4 linked regions of the Homo sapiens genome follow. The protein of the gene in region 1 interacts with the protein of each later gene in a pairwise test. Each region holds a gene or a part of one and is shown in the gene's direction. Other genes may lie near its edges.

Evidence for each region.
Region 2: the proteins of CIRSR (region 1) and splicing factor U2AF 35 kDa subunit-like protein interact in binary tests that used the Homo sapiens proteins (3 or more experiments, as listed by UniProt).
Region 3: the proteins of CIRSR (region 1) and MB21D2 interact in binary tests that used the Homo sapiens proteins (3 or more experiments, as listed by UniProt).
Region 4: the proteins of CIRSR (region 1) and DPPA4 interact in binary tests that used the Homo sapiens proteins (3 or more experiments, as listed by UniProt).

What each region holds. Positions count from the first base shown.
Region 1 is NC_000002.12:174,392,679-174,399,672, reverse strand, and holds the start of CIRSR (corepressor interacting with RBPJ 1), read left to right. Parts: upstream 1-3,960; 5' UTR 3,961-4,050; coding exon 4,051-4,122; intron 4,123-6,994. Other genes in the region: SCRN3 (secernin-3), read right to left, coding at 1,231-1,398, 3,447-3,497. UniProt on the Homo sapiens protein: May modulate splice site selection during alternative splicing of pre-mRNAs. Regulates transcription and acts as corepressor for RBPJ. Recruits RBPJ to the Sin3-histone deacetylase complex (HDAC). Required for RBPJ-mediated repression of transcription.
Region 2 is NC_000021.9:6,484,118-6,489,277, reverse strand, and holds the end of splicing factor U2AF 35 kDa subunit-like protein, read left to right. Parts: intron 1-1,865; coding exon 1,866-1,915; intron 1,916-2,072; coding exon 2,073-2,171; intron 2,172-2,822; coding exon 2,823-2,956; intron 2,957-3,047; coding exon 3,048-3,140; intron 3,141-4,361; coding exon 4,362-4,509; 3' UTR 4,510-4,655; downstream 4,656-5,160. UniProt on the Homo sapiens protein: Plays a critical role in both constitutive and enhancer-dependent splicing by mediating protein-protein interactions and protein-RNA interactions required for accurate 3'-splice site selection. Recruits U2 snRNP to the branch point.
Region 3 is NC_000003.12:192,796,310-192,802,885, reverse strand, and holds the end of MB21D2 (nucleotidyltransferase MB21D2), read left to right. Parts: intron 1-3,235; coding exon 3,236-4,500; 3' UTR 4,501-6,071; downstream 6,072-6,576. UniProt on the Homo sapiens protein: Probable nucleotidyltransferase that catalyzes the formation of cyclic dinucleotide second messenger in response to some unknown stimulus.
Region 4 is NC_000003.12:109,334,527-109,341,363, reverse strand, and holds the start of DPPA4 (developmental pluripotency-associated protein 4), read left to right. Parts: upstream 1-3,817; 5' UTR 3,818-3,846; coding exon 3,847-3,900; intron 3,901-4,656; exon of another isoform or gene 4,657-5,043; intron 5,044-6,837. UniProt on the Homo sapiens protein: May be involved in the maintenance of active epigenetic status of target genes. May inhibit differentiation of embryonic cells into a primitive ectoderm lineage.

The sequences.
Region 1 (6,994 bases):
GTTAGTTACAAAGATGAATCAGATAAAGATCTCACTTTTGAGAAACTAAAACTTCTACATTAAGATAAAATAAAGTATAAAGTATTAGGGTCATGAAGTGAAGACAAGGTGCTATTGGAGCTCAGGAGAAAGATGGTCTCTAGCTGTAATATCTTGAAACATTTTTGTAGATGTGTGAGTTGAAGCTTAAGGAAGTAGTTCTCAACCTCAATATCCAGTGTTTCTTGATTAGTGATATAATTACTCACATGGTAGCCTTCGAATACAAGAGTTTTGTCATAGGAATCTCACATCACATTTTGAAGTCAACCATTAGGTATGCCCACAGCAATGAAAAGAATGAGAACCACTGGTTTACAGGACAGGCTATATTTAAATATGAAGAAATAAAGTGGAAGTGGTATCACAGATGAATAAGTGGTCTTAGCAAAAGAAAAAAATATGGCATAGGATACAGAAAAAAGTCTAATATTTAATATGTTTTAATATTAGAATATCAATAAAATAAAATCTAAAAAGTATGAATTAGCAACAATAGCATAATTTGAAGCTCTCATTTTAAGTTCCACATTAAATGGGTTTTTAAAATAAGTTTTTAAAGGATCCTTTAATTAATGTGTATACTACCAAGTGACTGCATAAAATGTATATTGATAGTGTTAACATAGGGCCTAATAAACCTTTTTTGATGTGTCATAAAACTGTCATTCCTAAAGTCTGGGATGACTTTCCTATTCTACATCAAGTAGAACCTAAGCCAATTCAGAATCAGAATCCTTTTTGTCCATCAAATTCCAGCTAACTCCAAGCTGAATTAAATGTTCATTCTCTTCCGCTGCCACAGCATGCTACTGTTACTTAAATTTAGCATTTAAACCATCCTATTTTATAATGGGGTATAATGCATACACATCTTATTGCTATACTAGACTCTAAGCTCCTGGAACAGAGTCTTGACAGCTGACTTTAAATCTCTTGCCCTATCTAACATGCTTGCATATGGAAAGCATTCAAATATTTATTCAAACAATGGATAATTTTATTATTGTTATTTCAACGTCCTCCGAATCACTGAAATAAAAGATCACAGTTTATTTCTGACTCATTTATTTTTCAAATGTAAACTCCTCAATTTTAACTTCTACAGTTTCTTCCAAATTGCTATGTATAGAAATAACTTTATGATATTTTTAAAAGGCATATTGCTAACAAAACATTTATTTCACCTACCTTAAGACGTTCTCCCAGGTTATCATGAACTACAGCAGGAAAATAAACCACCTCTTGTACTTCATCATAGAGTCTATCTGAATTTTTTCCAAAAATAATCCTGTTATCGACTGTTGCTGGAGGTAATGCCACGAAAGTGTCACAGGAAAAAGGTTCCATTTTTTTTAACTAAAAATTATACAGATGTTTTAAAATAAAAAGAACACTTTTAAGTATATAAAAATAAAGAGTTTTACTCAATGACCAAAGGATATTATTGCCATATCTAATTAAGGATGTTCATTAAAGCTTTGATTTTTTTATTTTTATTTTTTGGAGACAAGGTCTAGCTCTTTCACCCAGGCTGGAGTGCAGTTGTATGATCAGGGCTTACTGCAGCCTGGAACTCCTGGGCTCAGGAGATCCTCCCCCTTCTGCCTCCCAAAGCCCTGGGATTACAGGCATGAGTGACCGTGCTTGGCTGTTCATTAAAGTTTTAAATTTTGTATACTACAGCCTAAAAATCAGTAAGAATATGACTTGGGACTCAATCTGGTACTACAACTCAGTAAGAAAATGGCAATGAGAACTACCTTCTTCTACTGTATAGTTCACATTTATTCTCTAAGACCTTTCTCTCCTAAAGTCTTCCCTGAATTTCGTTTCACCATTTCCATATTTGGGAATCCGTGTACCTAGCTCTATTGTTGTAAAGGCTAGATTCCATTACATTCGTGTATATATAAATCCCTTTACTGGACAATGAGATCCTTGAGGGCTGGGAGTATGTCTTACTAATCTTTATATTCTCTTTGCTGGAACTTGTCTTATGGAAAAAAATCTTACGTGCCCAGTACTTCCTCAAAGGAAGGAAGAAGGGGTCTTATTTGAGCTGGGAAATAATACACATTATAATTCTGATGAGACTGAAATTTTGAAACAGACTCATTGATTCAGACAAAAATATGTCAATATAATTCCAAATTGCTGATATTTCTAGGAGAAAGTTCACATATTTAATTTATAAATCGCAATTATATACTTTAATATCTAGATTACCTCTTCAGTTGTAACTTGGAAAATCTTAGATCTTCACTTATAATAGAACACCTAAAGGTCCTTATTTTGCTGCCAGAACAGACACATTGTTTTACAGAGTTTCCTTCTTTCCTTTAATAATGGCAAAACCTTAAAATGGCTTTACACAGGCAGATGCTAGCAACTTAAAAACAAAATTTAAATATAATAAATGTTTCCTTAAAAAGAAAAGAAAATGACTAAATAAAAACTTCAGACTGAAACTCTTAAGGGTTTTCCTCTTCTCCTCAGTGACGAGAAGTCTGATGTCTTGATGGCTTCTGTTATTTTCTTTCTGTATTTCAACTCTTATGTCCTGGATCTCCTTCTATTTGTGTTTTATAGTTAGTTCTATCACTATATAACTTTGGCAGACTATTTAATCTCTCTCTTACCTATGCCTTCTGCCTCATCAGAAAAATAAGACACTATTTGATGGGCTGTTATGAGAACTTAATAAGGCAACACGTAAAGTGTTTTGCACAGTGCATAGAACATAGTAGATACTCACATGAAAGCTGTTATTGTTATTATTTGGTAGGAGAGAAAATTTCTCATAAAGGCTTATTCGTTTTTTGTTTTTTTTTTTTGATGGAGTTTAACTCTTGTTGCCCGGGCTGGAGTGCAATGGAGCAGTCTTGGCTCACTGCAACCTCCGCCTCCCGCGTTCAAGTGATTCTCCTGCCTCAACCTCCCGAGTAGCTGGGATTACAGGCGCGTGCCACCACACCCGGCTAATTTTTCGTGTTTTTAGTAGAGACGGGGTTTCACCATGTTGGCCAGGCTGGTCTTGAACTCCTGACCTCAGGTGATCCACCCACCTTGGCCTCCCAAAGTGCTGGGATTACAGGCGTGAGCTACCGCGCCCGGCCAAGGTTTATTCTTAACATTACCCTGATAGAGAACTTGGTTGGTGGATCACCTGCTGCAGTAGCAGCCACGTCCACTCAAAAACCTGGAGTCCCAAGGGCCATCAAGCTGCAATAGTAACCTGAGCTGCCTAACTGGGGTCGTAGGGAAAGCTAAGGAAACTTGCCCCCTGGTTAGAATTGCACCTAGCCCACTGAGGAGGTGAAGCCTTGAGAGATTTTACCAACTCCTAACGCGTATTCGTCATTCAATAAGTATTTATTGAACGTCTTTCGGCGCCAGTACCGTACAGCTGGGTACAAAATAGACAGGGCCTCCGTTCTTGCAGAGCTGTCTGTCATTCTATTTCACGCGCTCTTAGTTCAGCCGGCGCTTTCAGAAACATCATATTGTTGGATTCTCGCAAGCATACTACGGTTAGGGCCGGAATTATTATCTTCATAACATAGATGAGAAAAACAGTGCAGAAAAGCTTTTGCAGCTCGAGTCAGAGTCCACAGAAAGTAATGGGCTCGAGCTTCAAGCACCTTTGGTCGAAGGGCCGCCGCGGTCCACCCCGCACCCCGGCCCTGGGCGCTCAAACCGCAGCCGGTGCAGCTGGGCTCCGGAGCCCCTCGGTCAAGCAGTGCCGCGCCACAGTTGGGTCTTCCGGGTTTCTGTCTCAACTATGCACGCCCCTCCCCCGTGCGCGCCCCTCACCTGGCCTCCCAGCTACCCGAAGTGACAGGTGGACGGAGGGAGGAGTGGCCAGTGGAGGCATCAGTTGCCGGAAGCTGTCACCTTTGATCTCGGAAGTTCCCCCTTGCTGCTGGAAACGCAGTTCCGGTTAGGCGGCTGAGTTTGTTTACGTTGCTAACAGATCTAGCCCCTGCTTTCCCTAGTTCCAGTTCCAAGATGGGGAAATCCTTCGCCAACTTCATGTGCAAGAAAGACTTTCATCCTGCCTCCAAATCCAATATCAAAAAAGTGAGTAAACAGACCCGGGGAGGGATTAGGCCCACAGGGACCGCCTTCCCAGAGGCTGCTGGAAGTGAAAGTGATGGTGTCTCTGAGATCCCTAGGACAGCCTCCGCTTCTCTAGGCCTAAAGCCCTGGTGGTCTCGCCTTTCTCTGCTGAGCAGCTCGCTGACGCAGCGGGTCCTCAGCGTTTATTCTGCAACAGCGAGGAGACCGGTGGCCTAGAGAATCTTTGTCGGCCAGAATGCAAATCCATAATATGCGAAGACTAATGTCAAAATTCCTCAGTACTTCCTTCAGCTGATTCTGGTTTTTTGTCTTTTCGGATCCCAGGGATCACGGCTTCTGAACTCTACTTTTCTGTACAAAGAAGCCTCCCCGTTTACTTAAGATAGATCTTTAAAAAAATTACCTAATAATCTAGTGTCTTTTTGATGACTAAACTCGTTGAAGTTTAGTGTTTTACATAATTACAGGTCTACCAGTTGTAATACTTTGGTGAATATCATAGTAATGAAAAGCAAAAGAGTGAAGTAGAAAGAATCAGCTTTGGAGTCAAACCTGGATTCTAGTTATTCGAGCAGTCACTTTTAGCCTTAAGACCTTGCACAAAATATTTGTAATATCTGACCCTCAGTCTTCTAATCTGTAAATTAAGGATGATTGACTTAATTGTGAGGATTAAGTGAAATAGTGAAGATAAAGGATTTGAAACAACGTAGGCATCTATCACTGTGTCCACTACAGAGAGGAGGTGCTCAATAAAATGTTGATTGCCCCTACATAGAAACTTGTGAAAATAACTAAGCTTTTATTTGTTTTTAGAACGAGTTGAGGTGATGAGATACTGCTATATACTCTCACTTCTAGACCAGTGATTCTCAACTTTTTTTTCACTGTTACCTTCCTAAGGAGTCTTATTAAACATTTTTTCTTAATAACTCCCCCATGAAATTTTAATAACACAGATACACCTTGAAAGCTCTTTGGTAATCATCCAGCCCCATCTCCTCATTTTATAAATGAGGAAACAAATTTGCCAAGAGTTACACAGCTAGTTAAATGTTGTACCAGAACTAGGATCTGGAACACCTGATTAACCCAGTGATTTTTTTTCCACTGCACCAGTTTGTGTTTGTGTGGTTGCAACTGTGGGAGGGAGAGGTTTCTTGTATTTGGTTGGCTCAATAACTTTTGACACCAAACACAGACATTTCCTTTCTCTGCATACTTAGGGGGTCAGCTGTTACTATTTTTACAAGAATGAAGAGATTAGATGGAATTCAGGTGCTTGCTTATTTGCTGTTTATATTTAGAGACAAATATACCTGAGAAATCATAATTTTTTACTGGAACTTTTGACATTTCGCTTTATAAATTTCAATGTATCAGCTTTCTTACAAGAAAAAAGAAATCCACAGAGAATAACTTTTGCAAGTCCGCTATGAGAAATTCAGTAAAGCAGTTATAGGCTTAGAACCTACATTCTTCTCATCTGTGTAAAGTGTTATGTAAAATGTACCAAATATTGTTGGCCTCTTTGATCTGTTTTATACTTTTCCCAGGATAGAGGAGAAGAATGAAATGTTTTTGATTAGCAGACCTTTCTAGATAGTTAACACTTTATGGGGAGAGGGGGTGACCTCTAGCATTCTTTATTAACTAAGGATAAAGGAACTATATTAAATGAAGATAAATAGAAAAATTTATTAGGGTAGGAGGAAACTTTTGGAGGTGATGGATATGTTTATAGTGTAGATTGTGATGATGGTTTCACAGGGATATACTTGTCACCAAACTCAGGTTGTATACATTAAATATGTACAGCTTTTTATATGTCATACTCCAGTAAAGTTTTTTTTTTTTTTTAATAGAAGTGGAAGAAACAAAGGAGTTTGATCAAAGAGTGCAAAAGAGTTCCACCATGAAAATTTTAAGGGCCAGGTATGGTGGCTCATACCTATAATTCCAGCACTTTGAGAGGCCAGGAATTCAAGACCAGCATAGGCAACAAAGTGAGACCCCATCTATATTTAAAAAGAAAGAAAGAAAATTCTAATTGTAAAATTAGGCATGTTGGGTTTATTAAAGTCCAGTAGGTTCTTTTTTTCCTTGTTTGTTTTCAGTTTCCCAAGCTTATAAAAAGTCCAGTAGGTTTTAAGGTCTCATTTGTTCACCAAAAATAAGAGTGAATGCTGTATATCTGCTGGTCACTCTGTTGTGTATTGTTATGCGCTGCCTCAATCATTTATGTCACAGGATACACTGTTTTGTTCAGCTGTTCTTTTTTTTTCTTGATTTTGTTAATGAAGGAAGCAGTTAATTTACATTGTGGTCCAAGCTCTTTAGTCTTCTTGTGGACTGGCAAACAGTTCATAAACTGGCTATTGACAATTGCATCACTGTAAACTCCCTTTTTTGTGAAACTCTCTGTTCCCTTAGCTGTAATAACTACTCTCTTCTAGTTTTCCAGCTCTCTTATTAGACTGTTCTTTTCCCATCAACTTCACTGGATCTTTATTCTTAGCCTGCTCCTAAAATATAAGTGTTCCCCAGAGTTTCATCCTTGGCCCACTTCTTGCTTACTTAGTATGCTTGCCCCAAGCAATCACATCCAACTAGCCTGTTTTAACTAGCCTGTTTACTCATGACTCAAATCTGCAGTCCCAGTTTTCTCTTCTTAACTTTGATGTGGCTCAAGACAGCTATCTACTAGACATTTGCATCTTGATGTCCTATAGGCACCTCAAACTCAACATATCTGATATAAAAGTTTTTTACCCCAAATCAGCCCTTTTTATACTTGCTATCTCATATGGGTAGAAATATAGATAGTAAAACAGTCCCTCATCCTGTTGCCCAAACCAGAAGCTCAGGATTC
Region 2 (5,160 bases), on another chromosome or scaffold:
TTGAGCAAGCTCAAAGACCCGTGTGCCAGCAGTCAGATGCCCACGTTGGGTGCACAGGCTAAGGCAGCCGGCCCAATCTGGAAACCAGTCAGGCTTTTGCCAGCCCCTAATCTAGCTGATTGGAACATGTTTGTTGATACACCAGCTCTGTGATTTCTCAGGTTTAGAGAACTCTAGAATTTGATAGAGTGGGCCGGGGGCAGTGGCTCATGCCTGTAATCTCAGCACTTTGGGAGGCTGAGGTAAGCAGATCACGTGAGGTCAGGAGGTTGAGACCAGCCTGGCCAACATGGTGAAACCCCGTCTCTACTAAAAATACAAAAATTAGCCAGGCATGGTGGTGCGCGCCTGTAGTCCCACCTACTTGGGAGGCTGAGGAAGGAGAATTGCTTGAACCTAGGAAGTGGAGGTTGCAGTGAGCCAAGATCACGCCACTGCACTCCAGCCTGGAGTGGACAGAGACTCCATCTCAAAAGAAAAAAAAATTAATTAAATTTGATAGAATGATGATGGGGATAGAGTGTAAATTTGCCAAATTTACCCACGCAACAGACATGATTTTACCTAATACATGTGAATTATGAAGAATAAACTGATGAAAATAGTTTGGGAATATAAAACTTAAGAATACTTGCGCCGGGCACGGTGGCTCACACCTGTAATCCCAGCACTTTGGGAGGCCGAGGCAGGTGGATCACGAGGTCAGGAGTTCAAGACTAGCCTGGCCAAGATGGTGAAACCCCATCTCTATTAAAAATACAAAAATTAGCCGGGCGTGGTTGTGGGCGCCTGTAATCCCAGCTACTCAGGAGGCTGAGGCAGAGAATCGCATGAGCCCAGGAAGCGGAGGTTGCAGTGAGCCGAGATTGCGCCACCGCACTCCAGCCTGGGCGACAGAGTGAGACTCCGTCTCAAAAAAAAGAAAAAAAAAAGAATGCTTTCATCAGCAAAACATTGTAACATTCCCTTTACTTGAGGGCGTCCACAATACCGTAAGGTTGCGTGAACTGTCCTACTGAATCTTCATGGTTGCTTGGATTTTAATCACATCAGAAGAATTTGAGAGCATACCATGGCTGGCAGTCCATAAAAGACTAGTTAGGAACATCAGCTTTTAATCATCGACCCTGCTTTCAGGTTTCATTTTAAACTTATAGAAGAGGGGAAGACATCAGTGTGCTTATTTGGCCTTTACTCTAAATCTTAAAAGGAAGAAAATTTTAATATTTCTTAGTTTGAGCCCAGGTGCGGTGTCTCACGCCTGTAATCACAGCACTTTGGGAGGCCAAGGCAGGCGGATCACTTGAGGTCAGGAGTTCAAGACCAGCCTGCCAACGTGGTGAAACCCTGTCTGTACTAAAAATTAAAAAAAAAAAAAAAAATTAGCCGGGCGTGGTGGCAGTCGCCTGTAGTCCCAGCAACTCCAGAGGCTGAGACAGGAGAATCGCTTGAACCCCAGAGGTGGAGGTTGCAGTGAGCTGAGATGGTGCCACTGCACTCCAGCCTGGGCGACAGAGCCAGACTGCATCTTGTGGGTGTAAAAAAAAAATTTGTAGTTTGAGAGTCAACTTTTTCCTCACAGTTTCTGAAAATGTGGCCCTTTTGATGCTGATTAAAGCTGGTTGTGATTTTAACACCTTAGTAGCCAGAATCGAGACTGTCATGGGGACATTTAAAATCTCACCACACTTGACACCATTCACAAGTAGCCATGTGGCTCAGTCTCCTGAGTGCTCCTGCAGAGTGCAGCTCTGCCAGGCTTTTCTCTAGATAATCTCGTGTGTGTTACTGTAGCAGTTTGAGTTTAAACACAAGAGTTCACTCGGTTAACATGTTCTAACCAGCAAGATTTCTGTTGTTTGCAGGTGCCGTGAGCGATGTGGAGATGCAGGAACACTATGATGAGTTTTTTGAGGTGAGAGAACTGAACTCTGTGACTGATAGACCTGTTGATCTTCTGTATCTGTTTGGAAGGATTTAAAATGTTTCTCTGCTAATAAACATACATGAGTTATATCTAATGACACTTTGTAGTGTATAACGAGTCTTAAACCACTGTGGTCTCCCTTCAGGAGGTTTTTACAGAAATGGAGGAGAAGTATGGGGAAGTAGAGGAGATGAACGTCTGTGACAACCTGGGAGACCACCTGGTGGGGAACGTGTACGTCAAGGTAGGAGCCAGGGCGAGACGGCGGCGTGGCCGCTTAGTGTGCCGGGGCCAAGGCCAACAGGCGAAAGCGAGACAGTGGTGCAGCCGCTTAGTGTGCCGGGGCCAAGGCCGACAGAGGATGGGGTGCCTGTCGCCATGCACCTTGAGATCCTGGATGCTCAGGCGCACAGCAGGGCTCAGGTGCACTGGCTCGGCGCCTACCGGCTGCGTCATATGTGGCGGTGGCCAGCCCACACGTGCGCCCAGCCAGCAGAACTGAAGGACGGACCGTACACCACAGCCATCGTTATTTCAGTGTAGAATATTTAGTACCTGTTGGTTTAGAAGCTGTGTGGACTAAGGAAAAGTTAGGTTTACTCACATGTTTGGTTTCTTTTTTCTTTTTTAGTGAATAAAACTTTATTTGCCTACACAGCCATATTTGCTCCTTTAACCAGTTGAATTTGAAAAATGAAGGCAACATTTGGCAAAATCTTGGACTATCTTGAAGTTAATCTCATTGAAAATAAAGGATTTTTCAATTATCCTGTAATACTATTCCACCTTACTATACCTGAGTGTGTATATCTCTCTCTGATACATACTTGGATTGGTAATTGAGAAAGTCTTATTAAAGCGTGGATGGCAAGCACTTCTGTTTTTGTCTTTTCAGTTTCGCCGTGAGGAAGATGCGGAAAAGGCTGTGATTGACTTGAATAACCGTTGGTTTAATGGACAGCCGATCCACGCCGAGCTGTCACCCGTGACGGACTTCAGAGAAGCCTGCTGCCGTCAGTATGAGATGGGGTGAGTGAGGAGTGGCCAGTGACGTGACTGAGCACAGTTCGGGGCCGTGTGCACACGAGGTAGTAAATGTCTCCTTCCAACCCACCCACAGAGAATGCACACGAGGCGGCTTCTGCAACTTCATGCATTTGAAGCCCATTTCCAGAGAGCTGCGGCGGGAGCTGTATGGCCGCCGTCGCAAGAAGTGAGTATTCCTGTGCCCGTTGTTAAGCTCAGTGGCTTCTTTCTCCCCTCACAACCCTCCCCCTTCCAAAAAAAAAATTTTGGCATAGGTGTTGTTTCTGTTTTTTAAAAGGCAGTGCTTAGAACATAGTACATATTTTTAAATATCCAAATGTCCTCTTTGGAGAAGAATATTCACCTGCACACAGGTAACTTCATTATCCAACTTCTCAAGTAGAGATCAGATCTTAGTAATCAAGCAAGAGGGCGGTTAGCTGGGCAGCCGCGGACATGAGGCTCGTGGTGAAAGTGGGCATGCAGTTTATTCTCCCAGATATTACGAAGAAGAAGAATAGATGTTGTAACCTCCTTTAGATCAGGGATGGCTTCCCTGGGACACATTGGAAGAAGAATTGTCTTGGGTCACAAATAAAATACACTAATGATAGCTGATAACTTTTTTTTTAATTGCAAAAAAAATCTCATAATGTTTTAAGCAAGTTGATGAATTTGTGTTGGGCTGCAGGTTGGACAAGCTTTTGCTTTACATATTTCACATGTCCACTGGGGTTTCTTTTGGTTTTGCTTGTTGGTTTTAGGGCATTTCATTATGTCTTGGGATCGCTGGCATCCTCCCTTCGGGACACTGGCAGAATCAGGCCCAGCGGTCACATCTCTCTGATCCTACATTTAAATGTACGACAGGTCACAGAGCAGAGAAAATCAAGACGTCAGAATCGAACCGATTGAGTTCTGAGTCTGGAGAGGTTCTCATCCCTCTTCTGTTAAACATGGACTAGTAAATAGATGGGTGGCGATTGTTTTATTGTCAGCATTCAAGAAGCATAAGAGAAAAACAGGCCTGCTCTCCCCAGCCCAAAAACCTGATGGACACAGTAGCTATGAGCGCCTGAAGCGTGGGGTCAGTGAGGGTTGAAGATGGTATGTGTCCAGCTCATTTTGATTATGATTTCCTGTGACCATTTGAGTTGGTTCTAGAAGAAGACAGAAGATGCAAGGTATTACACCTGTTCACTTCTAAGTTGCACATTTTTTTCTCCTGAAACTTTTCACACCTGAAATCAGGGTGTGTCTCAGTCACGGCGTGCAGTCTCTTCAGCAGTGTTTTTCCTTATCAGTGCCGTTGGCTTGAGGAGCTGCGCGTGTTGAGAGAGTGGGTGTGGTTCTGTGCTGCGTGCCGTGGTTTGGATGGCACGGTTTTCTTTATTTTCCTTGGTTGCAGGCATAGATCAAGATCCCGATCCCGGGAGCGTCGTTCTCGGTCTAGAGACCGTGGTCGTGGCGGTGGCGGTGGCGGTGGTGGAGGTGGCGGCGGACGGGAGCGTGACAGGAGGCGGTCGAGAGATCGTGAAAGATCTGGGCGATTCTGAGCCATGCCATTTTTACCTTATGTCTGCTAGAAAGTGTTGTAGTTGATTGACCAAACCAGTTCATAAGGGGAATTTTTTTTAAAAAACAACAAAAAAAAAAACATACAAAGATGGGTTTCTGAATAAAATTTGTAGTGATAACAGTATTCTTGGTGTAACTTATTTCTTGTGGAAGTTCTTTAAATTTCTTTTTCTTTATAAATCTGCTAGTCATCTTGGAGGTAAAGATTAATATCCATCCACCACTTTGAGTATAAATGAAATAATATTTTTTATCTTAGGGCATGAAATAAAACACATACCAGGTGAGATCTACATGCTAAATAATCCGGAATTTCTCGAGGCTGTCATGGAAAGCCTTTTGGGGTTTCTTTTCTAACTGGTTAGTGAAGAAGTGCTTAGCTATAATCAGTAGACACGCTGTAGACTGCACTGATGTTGGGAAGAAGGCTGATCTGTGGTGAGACACAGTGGGTGGGCCCGACCCATGTTACCTTCTCGTTCCTGCGAGTTTGTGTCAAGAACCCCATGTGTTCGTGGGAGGGAGCGTGGATGCTCACACGGCACACTGAGGGCCAGTAGTCCGTGTCCGTGTTTCCTTATGCCAATGGCTGTGGGAGACACAGAAGCCTGCGGTGCAGATCCGCCTTT
Region 3 (6,576 bases), on another chromosome or scaffold:
CAGATCTTATTTACTAACCACAACACAGCATTTCACAGTACTTCTCACGTATATTTATGGTATTCTGAATGGTAGAATGAAAGGATGTTTGAAATAATGAAGAGTAAACGATTTCATTATCAAATATATCTCACTGAAACTGACTGTTCCAACATGTGAGTTCATAAAATAATGAAAATGATTTTCACAACCTAATCTGGAATCTGAGAAATCAATTTTATCCTTTAAAGCAATAACCAAAACGTGGGATGGTAGTATTTCTTTACATGGCAAAGATGAGGTTAATATTAAAACATAATGACATTTGAGAAATGGATCTTTGTCTTGGCATTTATAAGAACTTTCAATCCGGATTAAGTTTGGCTTTAAAAAAGAAAACACTTTAAAAAGGAAAAACATATTTTCCATGCTGAAGACGGTTTTTGTTTGGGTAGTAGGTAGTATCTTCTGTTTTGCTTGGATAGTATTTAGTGTAGTATGTTGGGTTTCTCAGGACGCAGCCTCTGAAATGGAGTTAGGATGTTTATGAAGCAGCACCCTTGGGATCTACACCTGTCGAAGTGGGGAAGGAAGCAGGTTCAAGTAGGAGAAGCTGAGCTTCCCTGCAGGCGCATCATTCGCCACAGCCAACCCCACTGGGAACTCAGAGTTTGAGTGGCCCTTCAGAGTATCCTGAGCTGGGACACTCCCACACCGATCAGTTATTGGATGTGCACCTGCAACCCCCATCCCAGCCACAGGACCTGACCTGGCTAAGACAGCCCTTTGCAGCTGAGACAATCCTTAAGGGCTAGCATTTAAGCAGCTGGAAGTCCTTTATTGAAGAGGGACCTGGATGCCGTATCACAGTGCAGATAGTGTGAGAAACAGCCAAGAAGTCAGGTTTGTTGGATGTTCTTTCTGATGAATTGTTGACACTATAATGTTGGCTAACTTACGGTTTTAAAAAGAAAATGATAACTTGCCATATTTCTGTGTGTAAAGAATTGTACTAAATAAAAGACTTTTTCATGGTTAATGTGGTTTGGAAAATAGGATTTTAAAGAGCATATTTTAATAAATGAGCGTTAAATTTTAAAGTATAATTGTCTTAGTTCATTCAGGCTGTTATGTCAAAGTACCTAAACTGAGTAGCTTATAAACAGCAGGGATTTATTTCTCACCATTCTGGATGTCAAGAAAGCCAAGATCAAGGTGCCTGCAGATTCATTGTCTGGTGAGGGACAGCTTCCTGGTTCATAGATGGCTGTCTTCTCACTGTGTCCTCACATGGCAGAAGGGGTAAAGAAGCGCTCTGAGGTTTCTTTTATAAGGGTACCAATCCCACTCATGAGGGTTCCACTCTCACGCCTGATCACCTACCACAGGCCCCAGCTCCTAATACTATCACATTGAAAGTTGGGATTTCAACATGTGAGTGGGAGTCACGAACGTTCAGAGTATAACAATAATAGTAAGAAAACACAGGCATATGGTTTATTTGATTTGGGATTGTCCTATGAAGAGCAAACTATGAATTATAATGAATAATGGAATATTATAATACTTTGTGGTAGGTCTTGATCTTTGGGGAAACACTGTTAAATAAATCACAGGATGACGCTGGTAGTTTGTCAGAGAATCAAGCGTAAGCAAGTATATAATGAAGGAGGGAAAATGTATATGTTGTTTATGGAACAGTCATTTAAGTCTAGCCTTTAAGAATTTATGTTAATTCCATCTATTAATGCTATCTACCTATTAATTTCATGCATTTTTTCCCTTATCATTTAGTCATAGCTTGAATTATGTTCCTACTGCATGCACGGAGTCTTCTATACCTGCTTAATACATGAGACATGGTTCTCAAAAGGACCCACAATCTCTTAAAAAATCACATTTGTTAATATCATCGCCAATTTAATCAGAAACGTATACAATTCGAGAAGATGTCACGCTCATGGTGCGGAGTTTTCTAAATTTAATTTTCCCTTAGAAATTTCAGCTTTATCATTGGCAATAAATATTGTCAGTAGTTTCCTTGAAGCCAGGCTCATTTTGTTCATTTCTGAAGAAAATGTCTACCAAATACCCAAATCTAAATAGCCATAGTTTTCTGTTGTTCTTTAAAGTAAAAATGGCGTTCCATGAACAAAGAGGCTAGTTCAGCTCACAACTCAGTTACGTGAGTGCTTTTCCTGAAGACAGATTTCCTATTTCAGTATGAGGAAGACGGGTTTTATGGTTATTTCCATTTCATCACACAGACTATTAGGAAGATAGTCTTTCTAATGGCTCAGAGGTTGAGATTCAATAAAATAACTTATTTTTCTTCTCCATCAAGGATTTTCTTAAGTAAAACTGGGTTTTTTAAAAAAAAATTGCTAATGCATGTCAGTGGTAAAGAACCTACTGACTGCTAGTACAGTTTGGCATCAGTGTCTTTGCTGCTAAGGCACTGGCAATATTATCCTCCCTTGTTTCTGTGCCATTAGTACAATGGCAACACAGTAAAAAAGTCAGACAAGACTGGGCGTGGTAGCTCATGCCTGTAATCCCAGCACTTGGGGGAAGCCGAGGTAGGAGAATTGCTTGAGGCCAGGAATTTTAGACCAGCCTGGGCAACATAGCAAGACCCTGTCTCTTAAAAAAAAAGTCAAACAGTGTGTTAGTATTATTATAAAGAGAGTTATGAACTCATTACCCCTGAAAGTGTCTCCAGCCCACACTGAGAACCGCTGGTACAAAGAAGAGTGTAAGCGCAAAGAGCCTGGGGAAAGAAAACCGCTTAGGCAATAGATAAAAAAGGCCGAACTTCATATGATGGCAGGAGAGATGGAGAACAGGGAAGGAAGTGAGAAACCCTGGCAGAGGTTCCATGGAAAAGATTTGGCAGTAGAAGGGCAGCAAAGAGTTGAAATGTACTGAGGTTTTCAGTCTGCATAACTGAGTGGATGGCAATTCCATTAACTGAGATGATGACTGGGGGAAGAGGGGCCCTGTTTTATTATTGAAAACGATACTGCTTTTCACACTGAGAGAGAAAAATCTATCATAATTCTTGCATTTGGAAAAGGGTGGATTCTAGCACTAGTGAGAAAGTACTGTTGGCCAGGTCTCTGCAGCAGCCTGAGATTTGATTTAGTACTGATAATGAGTTTTGGTTCTTGGAACATCAGAGCATTCTGTTTCATGCATAAGACTCTTATGTCTGTGTTTCCTGTAATAGTGTTGTTTTTTTCTTCTTTATTTCCAGGAATGGTGCAAAAGCTGGACCAAAAGCTTCCAGTGGCTAATGAATACCTGTTGCTCTCTGGAGGTGTCCGGGAAGGCGTGGTGGACCTGGACTTAGATGAGCTTAATGTCTATGCCCGGGGTACTGACTATGATATGGACTTTACCCTCTTGGTGCCAGCCCTCAAGCTGCATGACCGTAATCAGCCTGTGACACTCGACATGCGCCACTCAGCCTTGTGCCACTCTTGGCTGAGCCTTCGGCTCTTTGATGAGGGGACAATCAGTAAATGGAAAGACTGCTGCACCATTGTAGATCACATCAATGGTGCCACCAACTACTTCTTCTCACCTACCAAAGTGGCTGACTGGTTCTATGACTCTATCAGCATTGTCCTATCAGAAATACAGAAGAAACCCCAGCGAGGGATGCCAAAGGTAGAAAAGGTGGAAAAAAATGGGACCATCATCTCCATCATTCTGGGTGTAGGGAGTAGTCGCATGTTGTATGATATTGTCCCTGTGGTATCTTTCAAAGGTTGGCCTGCAGTGGCCCAGAGCTGGCTCATGGAGAACCACTTTTGGGATGGGAAGATTACTGAGGAAGAGGTCATCAGTGGGTTTTACTTGGTGCCTGCTTGCTCCTACAAGGGTAAGAAGGACAATGAATGGCGGCTGTCCTTTGCCAGGAGCGAGGTGCAGTTGAAGAAGTGCATCTCCAGCAGCCTCATGCAGGCCTATCAGGCCTGCAAAGCCATCATCATTAAACTGCTGTCCCGGCCCAAGGCTATTAGCCCCTATCACCTGCGGAGCATGATGCTCTGGGCCTGCGACAGACTTCCTGCCAACTACTTGGCTCAAGAAGACTATGCAGCCCACTTTTTGCTGGGCCTCATCGATGACCTGCAACACTGTCTGGTCAACAAGATGTGCCCCAATTATTTCATCCCTCAGTGCAACATGCTGGAACATCTGTCTGAGGAGACAGTCATGCTTCACGCCCGGAAGCTGTCCTCTGTGCGCTCAGACCCGGCAGAGCACTTGCGCACCGCCATTGAGCATGTCAAGGCAGCCAACCGGCTGACACTGGAGCTCCAGAGGCGAGGTAGCACCACCAGCATCCCCTCTCCACAGTCTGACGGAGGGGACCCCAACCAGCCTGATGACCGTTTGGCAAAAAAACTGCAGCAGCTAGTGACTGAGAACCCGGGAAAGTCAATCTCTGTCTTTATCAATCCTGACGATGTCACAAGGCCCCATTTCAGAATTGATGACAAATTTTTCTGAGTGTTAGCTGACTTTTTTTTTTCCTGATTCTTAAACTCTGATAATGTGTCGTGTGGTTTGTGATGCTATCTTTCTGTTTTTTACATATCCAGCCTAGATTGGATTTGTTAAGAACAAATTTTAAGTTTCCTGGTTCTGCAGGATGGTGCAGGCTCTGAAACAGTATATTACTATTTCATATTCTGCCTCTGATTTCGTTGTTTACTTTTTGTAGTTATTGTCATGCTCTTTAGTTTGTTGGAGTTTTTTTTCTTTTTAAGGAGATCTTAAGCCATAGATGAAAATGCCCATGAATCCTCTTGCTTTTTTCTGTTTCATACTTGGTGCAAATTTGTTCATGGGTATGGGGAAACAAATCTCTTTCTGATGCTTAACGATTCTATCCTATTATTTTTATTATTTTGTTTTTGTCTTTTTTCTTATGAGCTTTCACCACTACTGATATTTGAGAATCATATGAACCTGGGAACTACTTGGCATGTTAGCTGGATTTATTTATTTTGGCCAGTGACCAGAGTAGTTTCCCCCCTTTTCCACCAAACAATGTAAACTTTGAAAGTGATAATACTACAAATTGTGTTTTGGAGCAACTTCATTGAATGTAATTGTCCTCAAATCAGAGAACACTGGGTGGTTTGAAGGGTGTCTTTGACAGTTTTCCAAGCAGAATTAAGGTTTCCAAATGTTAATTTTAGCATATGTAATTATTTGAAGCCTTATTTAAATCCTATTAAAGAACATACCATTATAATTATTATTTGCACTAATCTTTGCCATTGTCAGAATTGCAAAGTGTGTTTCAATATAAATTAACAACCACTCTCGAAATTCTATCATTTTTTCATTTTGCCCATTTCTATCAGTGAAATGATTCTTTGCATTTGCTTAGTTCTCCTTCAGTTGTGGGGTCCTGCTTTGCCCTCTTTGATATTCCTGGTTCCTGTCTTACTGAGAGAAGTTGTTAAAGCTTTATACATGTTGACCCCATCTAAAGCTGGGGAAAATATACACTTGATGAAGTAGGTGTCTTTGTATTTATTTCTTTTGGGGTCATAGAGGTAAGCTTTTTTGTAAAATCTCTACTCTTCCTGAGAGTTTTGAGAAAAACTGGCAGGAAGAACTTATAATCCCCAAATAGAAGATACCACGTCTGTTCAAAAGCAGGTATTGCTATAGAGCAGCACCCAGGAAATATCTGTGGGTGGCAGCCTTGGTATAGAGGTGTCCTGTCTTCATGAGTGAAGTTACTTGCCTGATTAGGTGCTGGAAGGTATTGGCTCCCTGTTTTGGTGTGGACTCATGGCAAGCTGGTGTTTAAGAGGTCAGGAGGCCTGCTGATCTTTCAAAGGACACCCATGATGTCTACTCATAGAAAGGGCAAGTAACGTGTTCATTTTGGTCTTGAATGTCCAAACTCAAGGGTTGGATTTTGGCCAATTGAAATCAGACATATGCGATCTTGGGTTTTTGCATGGAAATTAATGTAATGCTTATAAATGAAAAATGAAAACATTTCAACCATCTAAGTCAAACACAAAAATAATAAAAAAAGAAACATACTGGCCTTGAAATTTTGTTGTTGTTTGTAATCTGGGAATTATTTTCTTATTAGTATTATATTAGTATATTTATATATTAGTATATTTTCTTATTAGTATTATACTAACAGCAATTTTCAATAAATACAGCCATGGGCTTGCTAGTGTCTTTCGGACCAGTTGTCCATATAGTGAACAACCAACATTCAGTCTTCCTCTTTCCCCAGTTTTACTACTAATGTCTATCCGCCACATCATCCTTGTCCTTCTCAGGAAATGATTTCATCCCTAGTGCTGAAAACGCGTCATAATTGGAAAAGCTGATCTGCACAAACCATCTCCCTGGCCACAACATTAACAAGCGACACAGAATGTAAGCCGCTCCAGTCAGGGACACGCTCAGCGTTCCAAACTGGAATGCTGGGACAGAAACATACACTCTCCCTGGATATGGAGGAGAAAGCATTTGGATTCTTTTGCTACTGACAACTATCACACGATCTTTATTTATTTGTGTATTTATTTTTAATACACTTTA
Region 4 (6,837 bases), on another chromosome or scaffold:
GTCAGGAGATGGAGACCATCCTGGCTAACACGGTGAAACCCCGTTTCTACTAAAAAATACAAAAAATTAGCCAGGCGTGGTGGCGGGCGCCTGCAGTCCCAGCTACTAGGGAGGCTGAGGCAGGAGAATGGCGTGAACCCGGGAGGCGGAGCTTGCGGTGAGCCCAGATCGCGTCACTGCACTCCAGCCTGGGCGACAGAGCGACACTCCGTCTCAAAAAAAAAAAAACAAACAAAAAAAGATATGAAGGAGGGCTGGGCATGATGGCTCACGCCTGTAATCCCAGCACTTTGGGAGGCCAAGGCGGGCGGGTCACTTGAGGTCAGGAAATCGAGACCATCCTGGCTAAAGGTGAAACCCCGTCTCTACTAAAAATACAAAAAATTAGGGGGCGTGGTGGCACATGCCTGTAAGCCCAGCTACTCGGGAAGCTGAAGCAGGAGAATCGCTTGAACCCGGGAGGCGGAGGTTGCGGTGAGCCAATATCTCGCCATTGCACTCCAGCCTGGGCAACAAGAGCGAAACTCTGTCTCAAAAAAAAAAATTAAAAAAAAAAAAAAAAAATTAGCCGGGCGTGGTGGCTGGCGCCTGTAATCCCAGCTATTTGGGAAGCTGAGGCACGAGAATCGCTTAAAAACCCAGGAGGCATAGGTTGCAGTGAGCTGAGATTGCGCCACTGCACTCCAGCCTGGACTACAGAGCGAGACTCTGTCTCAAATAAAAAATAAAAATAAGATATGAAGGAAGGGAGGAAATGAGGGAGGGAGGGAAATTGTTTATAAGCAAATAGGTTTGGGTTTTCTTGTTTTTGATGATAACCAGATCTATCATCTACCTCCAACTTTTCCCTTTTTAAACAAAAGTTATTAATTAACCTCATGATCTGCCTTACTCCCTAAATTTAATTTTAACTGACTCACCTTTTCCTACAGTAAAATAACCACTAAAACGGCAATGATTATCCACTATAGGAGATACTACAAGGTAGAATTATTATAAATTAGGTGTGTCAAGTACTAGTGTACTTGTTAAAATACTAGACTCTTGGACATGGGGAAAGAGGTATTTTCATGCACTGTTATAAATTGGGGAACTCTATATAGATATTAAATAAACCCAGCTTTTGACTCAGCGCTTCTGGAATACACAGCAGAGAGACACAGACAAGGGTTCCCTCCCTCCCCCACAGCCACACCTCCTGCCCCCTCTCTCCATTCTGTTAGGAAACAGTGTTACATATGAATCAATGCTGGTTTGTTTTCTGCAGATGCAGATTAATGACTTTGGAAGACTCACTGCCTCCGGGTAAACTAAAGGACTCATTAATTCAGTTCATTTTACACAATTAAAAAACTTTTTATAAAAAAAGAAAGCGAAAAGAAAAAGCTGGGCTTAGGGGTGCTGGCCTTTAGTCCCAGCTACTCGGGAGGCTACAGCTGGAGGATCATGTGAGACCAGGAGTTTCACCTGGGACCAGCCTGGGCAATATAGGGAGACCTCTTAAAAAAAAAAAAAGGAAAAGGAAAAATAAAAGAAAACCCAACCAGAATACCCCTAAATCTCTCAAATTCATTCCTCTCCAACTCTTTTTTTTTTTTTTTTTTTGTCTTTTTCTTGAAACAAGGTCTCACTATGTCACCCAGACTGGAGTACAGCGGCATGATCACACTGCAACCTCCACCTCTTGGACTCAAGCGATCCTCCCACCTCAGCCTCTCGAGTAGCTGGCACCCCTGCGCCACCACGCCTGGTAATTTTTTGTATTTTTGGTAGAAATGGGGTTTCACTATATTGCCCAGGCTGGTCTTGAACTCATGAGCTCAAGCGATTCTCCTGCCTCCCAAAGTGCTGGGATTACTGGCATGAGCCACCACGCCCTGCTCTTCTGATCCCAACATGTGCTGTGCCAGCCACTGTTTTCTCCAGACACTGTTTTCTCCAGACATGCCCACAACCCTCTAAGTAAAGGCTATTATTTTCATGACTCTCATTTCATGGATGAGAAAACAAAGAGACCTAACGTTATTGCCCAGGTCACACAGCTAGTGAAGGGGAGGTTGGGTTTAAATCCTGTCTGGCTAGCTGCTAAAGCCTTACATTTAAAAATGAATCAATCTGGCCTGGATTTGGTGTCTGTGTTTTTATGTTTTATTTTTATTTTATGTTTTATTTTGAGATGGAGTCTCACACTGTCACCCAGGCTGGAGTGCAATGGCACGATCTTGACTCACTGCAACCTCTGCCTCTCCAGCTCAAGCAATTCTCCTGCCTCAACCTCCTTGGTAGCTGGGATTACAGGCACGCACCATGCCCGGCTAATTTTTGCATTTTTAGTAGAGAAGGGGTTCTGCCATTGTTGGCCAGGCTGGTCTCAAAACTCCTGAACTCAAGTGACCTGCCCACCTCAGCCCCCCAAAGTGCTGAGATTACAGGCGTGAGCCACCATGCCCAGCCCAGAACTCCAGTTATTCTGAATGTTACGTTCAATTACACTGACAAAAGAAAGATGATTCAGTTATACACTTTATACACAAACCTTAATTAGAAAGTCCTACTGGTGGTTACCAAAGGCTGTGGTAAAGAATTGTTAAATCAAAGCCCTAATATCTCCCAGATGACCTCAACTCACCTGGTTTCCTCTTTGCCGCCTTGGGGGTTGCCCAGTCCACAACCTGCACTTCCTTCTCTATTCCTGGGCTCCGTTTACTTACTTTTTCTGTCCGTGGATTTCTAGCCTGTGAGCAGATTACTAACACCATTTGGATAAAGACAGTCTCTTATTTATCATTTTAGGACAAGCAATGAGATGTAGGAAAAAAAAACAACAAAGTAAACCAAAGAACAAAAGAGACTTTGGACCCTGACAAGGGAGGGTTTCAGTCGCACAGCCACTGCTTCCTTCACTTCACATCTCTTGACAATCTGACAGGGAGCACTGATCTGAGGAAAGATTTTTCAAATTATTTTAAGGAGAAAAACTTGAACTTCTTTGGGAGTCAGTAGGTTAGGGGTTCACTTACTGTGCTATTGAAAAAGTTACCAATAAAAATTTATACCAACTTTAGTCATATATAAAATGGGGAACAATAATGACTGAATTTAAAACTCACAATTTGAGATATAAAAAAATACTCGGGCGGGGAGTGGTGGCTCACGCCTGTAATCCCAACACTTTGGGAGGACAAGGCTGGAGAATTACTTGAGGGCAGGAGTTCGAGACCAGCCAGGTCAAAATAGCCAGACCCCCCCACTTGCCCTCTACAAAATAAATAACAAATACTCTATAGACTTTAAAAGCTACTATTATTAGTTCGTTGGCAGATGAAAAGATGCTCGGTATTAGTACAGAGAAACCTGGAGTTTTAGTTGGTTGAGTAACTTACTTAGGAAATGGAATGTATTTGGTACGAGAAAATAGCTTTCTTCAAGCCGCCAGTCTGGTCTCTGAAGTCTACTGTTGCCACAAGTTCCATTATTAAATCCCTTCACACATCCTGCTCAAGTCTCTGGCCACTGTTTTTTTGTTTTTTGTTTTTTGTTTTTTTTCCCCGTAGAATCGTTCTGAAGGAGTGCTCAATCTCCCAATGTCTCCGGAACCATACTTTGGATAATTACATTTAAAGTGAACAGAAAAGGGCCAGGAATAGTATTAGTAATTCAACCCAGACAAAAGTCACCCCATGAATAAGAAAGAATGCAATTTTAGCATTTACAAATTGTGGGGGAGGGAACAGAAGGGGAGAAGAAAAGAAGAGGTGAGGTGGAGAGAAAAAGGGTCTTCGGGCGGCAGGAAGTGGGAGGAGACTTTGCAAATAGCAATCTTGGGGCAGGGGCCATTTTGGAAGCATGTTGCGAGGCTCCGCTTCTTCTACAAGTATGGAGAAGGCAAAAGGCAAGGAGGTCAGTACAGTTTTAGTGGATTTGTTTTCTGTCTGTCTTTGTGTTTCTGTCTTCCCTGGGCACTCCTGATTTTTCCTTTAAGGAGAAAAGAATGTGCCTTCGAATTTTCTCCTCTTGACTTTTTTTTTTTTTATTTTAAGAGTAAGGCCCAAGAATATGATTGCAGCCTGGTATATTGGAGTGAGCAGACAAGTAAGAAATGAGGTTTTCTAGGTTTAGTTGAGGAGGTTGAGTGTGTCAAAAGATGGGGAAAAAAAAAAAAGAGGCCGGGCGCGGTGGCTCACGCCTGTAATCCCAGCACTTTGGGCAGCCGAGGCGGGCGGATCACCTGAGGTCGGGAGTTCGAGACCAGCCTGACCAAAATGGAGAAACCCCGTCTCTACTAAAAGTACAAAATTAGCCAGGTGTGGTGGCGCACACCTGTAATCCCAGCTACTCGGGAGGCTGAGGCAGGAGAATCGCTTGAACCCGGGAGTCGGGGGTTGCGGTGAGCCGAGATCGCCCCATTGCACCCCCAGCTTGGGCAACCAGAGCGAAACTCCACCTCAAAAGAAAAAGTTAAAAAATTAGGTTTTCAGGTTTGTGTTTTGGAACAGGGTTTCACTTTTGTCTCCCTGGCTGGAGTGCAGTGGCACCATCACTATTCACTGTAACCGCCCAGGCTCAAACGATCCTCCCACCTCGGCTTACCAAAGTGCTACTGGGACTGCAGGCGCCCGCCGCTGCTCCCGGCCCGGGTTTTCTGTTTTGAAGAGGTGCTTAGTCCTGTCAGAAAGAACTAACTGAATATGGGGGCTAGAGGGAAATGGTAACAGGAGAAAAGGGTGTTAAAGGAAAGATTTTAGGAAGAGGTAATTGAGCTGAGTTTGGAAAAGAATGAAACCCCTTAATTTCCTTTAGACGGACACAGATCCTAAACCGAGGGTGCTGAGAATGAATTCGTCCCCTTTTCCCAGCGTCCTTAGGACCTAGGAGTAATCAGAAGCCAGACATTGGGAACAATGCAGACAGAAACTGAAGGAAGAGAGGATTTAAGACGTTGCACAGGCACTGAACGGCCATATCCGAGCGCTCTCAGGTCCTCTTGACTTGAACTGGGTCATTTTTAACTGTCTCGGTTTTAAGTCTTTTGTGAGGTCCAAAGTGAGTACTTTTTGTAAGGTTTATGCAAATATAAATTTCAAATCAAAATGTAGAACTGCTATAGAGATGTAAAAATGCCATACAAATGTTAATTTGTCCAGTAATCCACCCTGAAAGTGAAGAAAAGGATTTAGATTTAGGAGAAATTTTATTATATTAATTTTTTTTTTTTAATGAGTTTGACTCTGTCGCCCAGAGTGGTGTGCAGTAGCCGATCTCGGCTCACTGCAGCCTCTGCTTCCCGGGTTCAAGCGATTCTCCTGACTCAGCCTCTCGATTAGCTGGGATTGCAGGCACGCACCACCACGCCCAGGTAGTTTTTGTATTTTTGGTAGTGACTGAGTTTCGATATGTTAGCCAGGCTGGTCTCGAACTCCTGACCTCAATCGGTCAGCCCACCTCGGCCTCCCAAAGTGCCGGGATTACAGGCGTGAGCCACGGAGCCTAGCCTTTATATTTAAATTTTAATTTATATCTAATGTACCCCTAATCTGTGTCTTTATGTTACCTCTGATTCTCAGCTTCTGTGTCTGAGAAGTAATTGTTGCCAGATTGCTATGAGAATTAAATGAATGAAAAAAGGAAGGCCAAGGCCAGGCACAGTGGCACACGCCTGTAATCCCAGCACTTTGGGAGGCTGAGGTGGGCGGATCACTTGAGGCCAGGAGTTTGAGACCAGCCTGGCCAACATGGTGAAACCCCCATCTCTACTAAAAATAGAAAAATTCAGCCGGGTGTGGTGGCAGGCGCCTGTAATTCCAGCTAGTGGGGAGGCTGAGGCAGAGAATTGCTTAAACCGGGGAGATGGAAGTTGCAGTGAGCCGAGATTGGACCACTGCACTACAGCCGGGGTGACAGAGCGAGACTCCTCTCAGAGAAAAAGAAAATAGGGAACCCTTGGGCGCAGTGGCTCGCGCCTTTAATCCCAACTCTTTGGGGAGCCAAGGCGGGAAGATTGCTTGAGGCTAGAAGATTGAGATCAGTGGGGGGAGACATAGGGAGACCTCACCTCTACAAAAAATTATCCTGTAGTCCCACCTGCTCAGGAGGCTGAGGCAAAAGATCACTTGAACCCGGGAGGTAGAGCTTGGAGTGAGCTATGGTCCTGTCACTGCACTCCAGCCTGTGTGACAGGGCAAGACCTTTTCTTTAATAAATAAATATTTTTTAAAAAAATGAAAGTGAGGAGCATATCAAAGCCAATGCCTAGTATGAGACAGAGGCTCAATATATGTTACTGTCTCTGGATTAAACAACTTTTCCCCACTCCCACTTTGCTTCCTTTAATTCAATGAACCAATATTTATTGAGTGCCTATGATGAAAAAGAAATCACACAAACCAATGTAATTGCAATTAACAAGTGGTAGAAATGAGGTAGTATTTAGTAGATTGGTCTGGAAGGACCAGGTTAAATAGCACTTGAGGTGAGACTTTTAAAAGAAGAGTAAGATTTTTAAGGTGTAAGATTTTAAAGTGTAAATAGAAGTAGGGTGGAGGTTGGGGCTGAGGAATGTAACAACTTTGGAAAGGAAAGGAATTATGTGGCTGGAGCTTGGTCAGGGAGAGCAGTGTGAAATAGGAGATAAGAGGCTGGTAGGTAATGTTAAAGACAATTACTTTTATGTTAAGAGCAATAAACCACTGAAACTTTTCATAGTGTCACTCTGCCAACAGTGTTAGAAAATTATTTGGAAGGCGTCAAGAATGAAGGACTGGGGGAAAAAATTCTGCCAGGTGAGAGATGATGGAATATAGTAAGTGAGTTAAGGGCCTCTTTTTTTTTTTTGAGACA